Homo sapiens: one gene and its partner. The protein of the gene in region 2 interacts with the protein of the main gene of each other region in a biochemical or structural test. Each region holds a gene or a part of one and is shown on either strand. Other genes may lie near its edges.

What was found. Proteins that work in one complex are often made in the same cells at the same time.
Region 1: the proteins of CDK11B (region 2) and YWHAB form a complex in vitro, tested with the Homo sapiens proteins (one study listed by BioGRID).

The regions. Positions count from the first base shown.
Region 1 is NC_000020.11:44,892,141-44,895,789, reverse strand, and holds part of YWHAB (14-3-3 protein beta/alpha), read right to left. Parts: intron 1-3,649. UniProt on the Homo sapiens protein: Adapter protein implicated in the regulation of a large spectrum of both general and specialized signaling pathways. Binds to a large number of partners, usually by recognition of a phosphoserine or phosphothreonine motif.
Region 2 is NC_000001.11:1,642,005-1,645,653, forward strand, and holds part of CDK11B (cyclin-dependent kinase 11B), read right to left. Parts: intron 3,286-3,649; coding exon of another isoform or gene 3,259-3,285; coding exon 3,122-3,258; intron 505-3,121; coding exon 382-504; coding exon of another isoform or gene 343-381; intron 1-342. UniProt on the Homo sapiens protein: Plays multiple roles in cell cycle progression, cytokinesis and apoptosis. Involved in pre-mRNA splicing in a kinase activity-dependent manner. Isoform 7 may act as a negative regulator of normal cell cycle progression.

The DNA of each region.
Region 1 (3,649 bases), on a different chromosome or scaffold from region 2:
TTCAAAGAGTAATTCACTCTTCCAGTCAGGCATGGCAGATCAATCTATAATCCCAGTGCTTTTGGAGGCCAAAGCTGGAGCATCGCTTGAGACCAGGAGTTCAAGACCAGCCTGGGCAACATAGTAAGACCTTGTCTCTACAAAAAATAAAATATTAGCCAGGTGTGGTGGCTCATGCCTGTGGTCCCAGCTACTTGGGAGGCTGAGATGGGAGAATCGCTTGAGGCTAGGAGGCCAGGGATGCACTGAGCCATGACTGCATCACTGCACTCCAGCCTGGGTGACAGACACCCTGTCTCAAAACAAACAAAAAATTACTCTTCCTAAATTACCTCTAGTCTTGCCTTTGTCCTTACTCAGTAACTTCCAATGACTCCCTTTTGGCTACTCCATCAAATTTAAGCTCTACCTGGCTTTCAAATTCCTGATAAATTGTCTCCTCTTTACTTGTTTGGCTTTCTCATCCACTGTTCTCCAACATGTACCTTTCTCTCAGGCTGGCCAGCACCACATGCCCTATAAACACAATGCTCAAACGTGTCTGAAACTGCTTTTGTAGTTCCCTTCATCTAGAGTGCTCTCCTATTTACTGCCTGCCTATCTGAACTCCACCCATTCTTCTAGGGCTACAAACCCTTCCCTGACTGCCCTAGCCCTCACTGATTTACCTTGCCTATGACTCTGAATATACTTATAGCCTATTACATGGTCTAGGACTTCTTTATGCCATTCTGTGATACAGATGAGTACTGTACCACTTACAGCTTCACGTGTGTGCCCTCAAAGGAAAGCTTCATGTTTGTTTCACATTTAATGCTTATAACTGTGCTAAGCACAAAACTCATATGCAAATGAATATCAAGTTTTTCTACAAATCATTATTGGGAGAGCACAAGGAACACAGAGTACCTATATGTAGTATAGTCGGAAGGCAGCAGGACTGTGTGTCACAGCGCAATGTGCCACTATACAGCCATGTGAGCATGTTAAATCTCAGCCTTCCAATCCATAAAATGAAGATGGCATCTACCTCAGTAGAGTTGCTGTGAAGATGAGGCGCAGGGAATTAAAGAATACTAAATGTGGAAATCTTCCTTGAAAAATGCATAGTGCAAAATCAAACTGAAGTACTATTATTCTTCTCCACGACTATTACACTGTAGCAGCCCATAAAACCATAAGCTTGAATTTTCTTTTTAAATATACAATTTTGTGAGAAGGAAAAGCAAAAGTCTAGATTAATCTTGTACAGATAGTTAGTATGTTATGTTAAAATGGACATATATGTTAAATGTAACTGAAGTTTATCCATTAGTTTCTAATTGAATTTTCTAGTGATATGCCATGATGGTTTTTAATCAAGACCTACTGTTGTTCCAAGACTTTGAATGAGGTTCCCACTAAAAAAAAAGTCAGCAAGATACTCTTTATTTGTCTCCTAAAAAGTTTTTGAAAGACTATAGTCTCATCGTCAGGCCTGGCACCACTGCAGAAGCATCAAGATACTGGCGCAGGCAAACTCATTAGAGGCCACAAAAGGCCCAACCCTGCAGTAAGCCAAGAGATTTTCCTTGTGCTGGGCATATTTCAGGAAGAGACTGACGTGCTTGAGAACAGGAGCTCTCCAGCACACCTATATGATGATGATGGCTGTCAATCTGTTCTAAGCCACTGGATGCAGCAAGTCAGGACTGGGAAGCATTTGTTGATAAACGCAGAGATTGCTTAGTGAAAAAATGGAAGCAAATCTAAATATCCAACAATATGGGAATGGTTTAAAAAATAAGGAGACTGGCCAGGTGCACTGGCTTACGTGTGTAATCCCAGCACTTTGGGAGGCCAAGGCAGGCAGATCACCTGAAGTCAGGAGTTCGAGACCAGCGTGGCCAATGTGGTGAAACCCCGTTTCTACTAAAAATACAAAAAAATTAGCCGGGGTGGTGTATGACTGTAATCCCAGCTACTCGGGAGGCTGAGGCAGGATAATCACTTGAACCCAGGAGGTGGAGGTTGCAGTGAGCCGAAACTGCGCCACTACACTCCAGCCTGGGCGACAAGAGCGAAACTCCGTCTCAAAAAAAAAAAAAAAAAAAAAGGCAGGGGAGGGAAGGAGATAGATGGTACAAGATTACGTGGCCATCAAAAGAAGAGATTTAATGTCATGAAAAGATTTATTTAAGAGCAATGGGGGCTGGAGGGACGAGGCTGCACAATATTTTATTTCTGTAAAATATCCCCTAAAGAACAAACAAACCCGAACAGAAAGGTTACACCAAATGGTTAACACTGGTTCTGTCTCTGGGTAATAACATTATTATATCCTCATTTTCCTATCTTTTTAAATTTTCTTCAAGTATGTATTACTTTTTTAAAAATTGGGTACTATTTCTTTTTTTAAGAAAAAAAGTGTTTTTCTGTTTAAAGAGAAACCACTAGTGCAGATAAACAGCTATGAAAAATAATTCTAAAGGTACTCACAAAATAGGATTTTCTTCAAAGAAACAAAATCCTAAATCAGATAATAAATGCTGAAAATAGAGGATCTAGGAAACAGCCTAGCCCCTCTATCCCAATTCCTTCCCCAAGGGACATCTTTCTAGTCAGGGTCAAAATACTGAGAAGTTATTTCCCAGTGGCTAGAGCAGATATCCTAGGAGAAGAATCAAAAAAGAAAGAAAGAAAAGAAAAAGAAGACTACCTACTGCTAATCCATTTTTTTTTAAATAAAGGCAGTGCAAAGACAGAAAGGGTTGAAAATGACAGCTGTGGCCTTTAGAAGCACTGGCTTTCAGCTATGTTTTGTTTTCAAGGCAAAGAACATGCTCGATTCGAAAATAATAAGCTTTGAATTTAATAATTTGTTAGAAATTTCAGATGAAGACTCCATTATTATATGTCAGGAATTACCCAAGCTCTATACATATAAAATATACGGTGGGGTCTGCTTTTAGCAAGCCTTACATACACATCTGAGCTTCTAAAGAGAAAGTAGGTGATTTTTCTACATTTCCACATTATAACTTACCTGAATCTGTTTTCTCAGTGTTAAAAAGAGACATTAATAGCTATCAAATAAGATAATGAACATAAAATGCCCATATAGTGCTGGTTAGAGTAAAGGCTCATAAGCCATTCTTATTTTTTATTCTTAAGCTACCTCACAAAAATGTAACACATATAATCCAATGTGTGTTGAAATAACTAACAAAATGAAAAACTACCAAATTTCTAAGAACTCTTTGGATTATTCATTGAGAGGAATTTAAAAGAAAGCAGTGTAGTCCTCCCCTCAGAGAGCTTAAACTCTAGTGGTAGAAACACAAGAAAAGAGCACATGTATATCTATTACACATCAATTAAAAAAAAAAACAGCACACGTTTAAGGGTTACAATGCCTCTCCTTAGAAAGCCAACCAGACAGAACTAGAGGAAATAGGTTTAAAGGTAGCTAGGTCGTGACTTAAAAAGAGATGTTATTAATAAAGTGCATGTATGTTTTTCTAGATGAGATAAAAATCAAAGGCCAAAGCAGATAAAGAAATGAGAATAAGGAAGAAAACTGACAAGAAAATCTGAAAAATCTAGGCTCGAATGTTTCAATGGGGTAAGGAACTGATCACATATTCTGAACAGCATTCACAGATGTACC
Region 2 (3,649 bases):
ATGAGATAAACCATAAAGGTGAATTTGGGGAAATGTTTTTAAACAAACAAGCTACCACCACCCCAAAACTAGTGCCTTTCACGTAACGATTAACTTTGCTTGGTCGGAAACCAGCTCATCCAGAGACGCTGGAAGCCACTTCTCTAACGGGGCCAGTGGCGAATGTCCCAGCGGATAAACACACGTCCTGTGTCCTGGCCGCACACAGACACTCACGGTCCCTCTCACGACACGAGAGGACTTCAGCCAGCACATCTCTCACTTTCTTCTGAAGCGGTTACTTAGCTGGGCTTTAAATGAATCCTACACACTTATGCCAAACATCCCCCAGAAAAGACTCACACTGTGCTGGCTTCTGCGCAGGCGCCGGCCTGGCCTCACCTGGCTTCCGGCCGTCTCCCAACTCGAACCGCTCCCGCGGCGGCCGAGGCGGGCTGCGACTCCAGTGGCTGGCTTTCACTTTGTCGCTGTAGTCCTCTCTCATCGTTCGGTGATGTGCAGACACTGGCGCGCAGGGCAGAGAGGGAGATGGCACTAGCAGCACTGCCTTCCTCAAAAGGCCCCACCCGGCACAGCTGCCTCGTCTCCCACACCCGCACCTGGCAGACACACCCACAGCGTGCACAGGGTGCTGACAGCATCGGGGTCAGAGGCCAGAGGTCTCCCAGGAAGCCCAGGGAGAAAAAGCTCCAACCTGGAGGCCGTGAGCCCGAGGACCCAGGTGGACCTTCTAGACTGATCTTCACTGGTCAAAAAGGAAGGGGCGGGAGAAGATTCTGGAAAGATGGAGTAGGAAGCACTGGGAATCAGTCTCCCCACCGAGACAACACTTGCATCACAGGATCAGGCCTGTGCAACTACTGAGGTGCTCTGGAGTCTACTGAAGGTTTGCAACTTCAGGGGGAATCTTGGAGAGTAAACTGTGATTCATTAATCAACGTCACCGCTTCGCACATTAGTGGCTCCCACCTCACTCCCCGCTGGCAGGCAGCAGCCTGCATGCAGCTCGCCGGACCCAGGTGGGCAGACGGACACACACACCCGAGGTCAGTGTGATGACTGCGTGTCCCACCCCAGAGGCATGAAGAGGCAGCAGCCACGGCCACCCCCAAGCTGAAGGTACTTCCAGGGCATGAGCACCACGTCCCCCGTTGCCCCCTTCATTTCTCTCTATTCCCCCTTTAGGAGGCAGACACTTCAGGACAAGAACATTAAAAACATCTGTATTGACGGGAACGTTAAAAAGTGGCTGCACGTGACCAGGAAAAGGCTCAGGCTCAGAAAAGACCCGTGAAGACCCTGAGTTTCCACAACAGGCCGACCCCACAGACACAGCCCAGCACAACCAAAACAACAAGTGCACACCCTTGAGTGGGGACCAGGAAGAATCACATCATGAGAATCAAATGTCCATTTTTTTGACTAAGAAAAACACAAGAGAAACAAAGAAATAGGACAGTATGTCCCATTCAGAGGGGAAAAAAAGAAGCCAACAGACACGGTTCCTGAAAATCACCTGACGGTAGATGTCCCAAAGACTTTAGGGAACTGTCTTAACCTTCAGTTCCTCAGAGAACGAAAGGAAGATGTGGAGAAAGTCAAGAAAATGACGCGTGAACACGACGGAAATATCAACAGAGACAGAAGATCCAACAAGAAACCAGAGAGAAATTCCAGAGCTAATAAGTACATGCTCACAATAGACACTAAAAAGTAAATATTCACAACAGAAACTCACAGGCAGATGTGAGCAGGCAGAAGAAATAATCGGTGAGCCTGAAGACAATAAAATCACATCGTCTGAGGAAAAGAAAGCAGAAGAGACTGAAGAAAAGGGAGCAGTGCTGAGCGGCCTCGGGGACCCCAACAGATCTGTGGGAGCCCAGGAGGGAGGAGAGGAGCAGAGAGGGTATCTGAAGAATTCCTCAAAACCCCCACATTGGATGAAAACCGTAAATATAAACATTAGAGAGGCTCAGTGAACTCCAGGTAGAATGAAGTCAAGAGGCCCACAGGAAAACCCATTATTAAACAGTTGAAAGCCTAAGGCAAAGAGAATCTTCAAAGCATCCAAGGGATCCTCAATCAGGTCATCAGATTAAAGCATCCAAGGGATCCTCTATAAGATCATCAGATTTCTCATCAGAAACTTTGGAGGCCAGAAGACAATGGGCTGAAATAGTCCAAGTGAAAAGGAAAAACTGTCAGCTAGGCATGAGGGTTCCTTGAGCCCAGGAATTCAAGACCAGCCTGGGCAATACAGGGACACCTTGTTTCTACTGAAAAATGAGCCAGGTGTGGTGGCACACGCTACGCCTGTAGGTCCCAGCTACGCGGGAGGCTGAGGTGGGAAGATCACTTGTGCCCAGGAGTTCGAGGTTGCAGTGAGCTATGATCGCTCCACTGCACTCCAGCCTGGGCAACAGAAGAAGACTCTGTCTCAAAACAACAACAACAAAATTGTCAACCAAGAACCACGTATCCAGCAAACTTTCCTTCAAAGATGAGGGAGAAATGAGGATATTCTCAGATAAACAAAAGCAGAGGGAGTTCATTACTACTAGACCTAGACCTGCCTTGAAGAATAAGCTCCAGGGAGTTGTGTGGGGTGTAAGGAAAGGACGCGAGACAGAAACCGGAAGCTGGGTGAAGAAATAAAGATCTCCATTAAGGTGAGGACGTGGGTGACTATAAAAGCTCGTACTGGCCGGCCGCGGTGGCTCACGCCTGTAATCGCAGCACTTTGGGAGGCCGAGGTGGGTGGATCACGAGGCCAAGAGATCAAGAGACTATTCTGGCTAACACGGTGAAACCCTGTCTCTACTAAAAATATAAAAAAATAGCTGAACATGGTGGCGGGTGCCTGTAATCCCTGCTACTCCGGAGGCTGAGGCAGGAGGATCACTTGAACCCGGGAGGCAGAGGGTGCAGTGAGCCGAGATCGCGCCACCGCACTCCAGCCTGGGGGACAAGAGCAAAACTCTGCCTCCAAAAAAAAAAAAAAGGCAGGGGCGAAAAGCAAGCACCGGAACCAAGCGCCCGCCTGTGACAGCAAGTGCCCAGCACCAGGGGGCAGCAGACACGCGTCCCGCCGAGCACAGCTGCCCACCGCGCCGCCTACCTTCCCTGCGGGCCTCCCGCTCCTTGCGCCGCTCCTCTGCCCGCCGCTCGCGCTCCTTCTGCTCCCGCTGCTCCTTCTGCTGCTCCCGCATCTTGCGCTCCCGCTCCCGCTTCCTTTCTAACTGCTCCAAGCGGTCCCTGAAGAGGCACACGCCATCATTCCCCCTAAACAGAAGCTTGCTTATCGCGTTTTTGTCCACATTTGTAAACTGGCTTTCTACGTAATTCAATCCGTGAAGTTTTTTTTTCATTTTTTTATTTTATTTTCTTTGAGACGGAGTCTTCATCTGTCCCCCAGGCTGGAGTGCGGTGGCGCGATCTCGGCTCACTGCAACCTCCGCCTCCCGGGTTCGAGCGATTCTCCTGCCTCAGCCTCCCGAGTAGCTGGGATTACAGGCGTGCGCCCTGTACTCCCAGCTAATTTTTGTATTTTTAGTAGAGACGAGGGTTTCACCATGTTAGCCAGGATGGTCTCAATCTCCTGACCTCGTGATCCGCCTGCCTCCGCTTTTCAAAGTGCTGGGTTTAC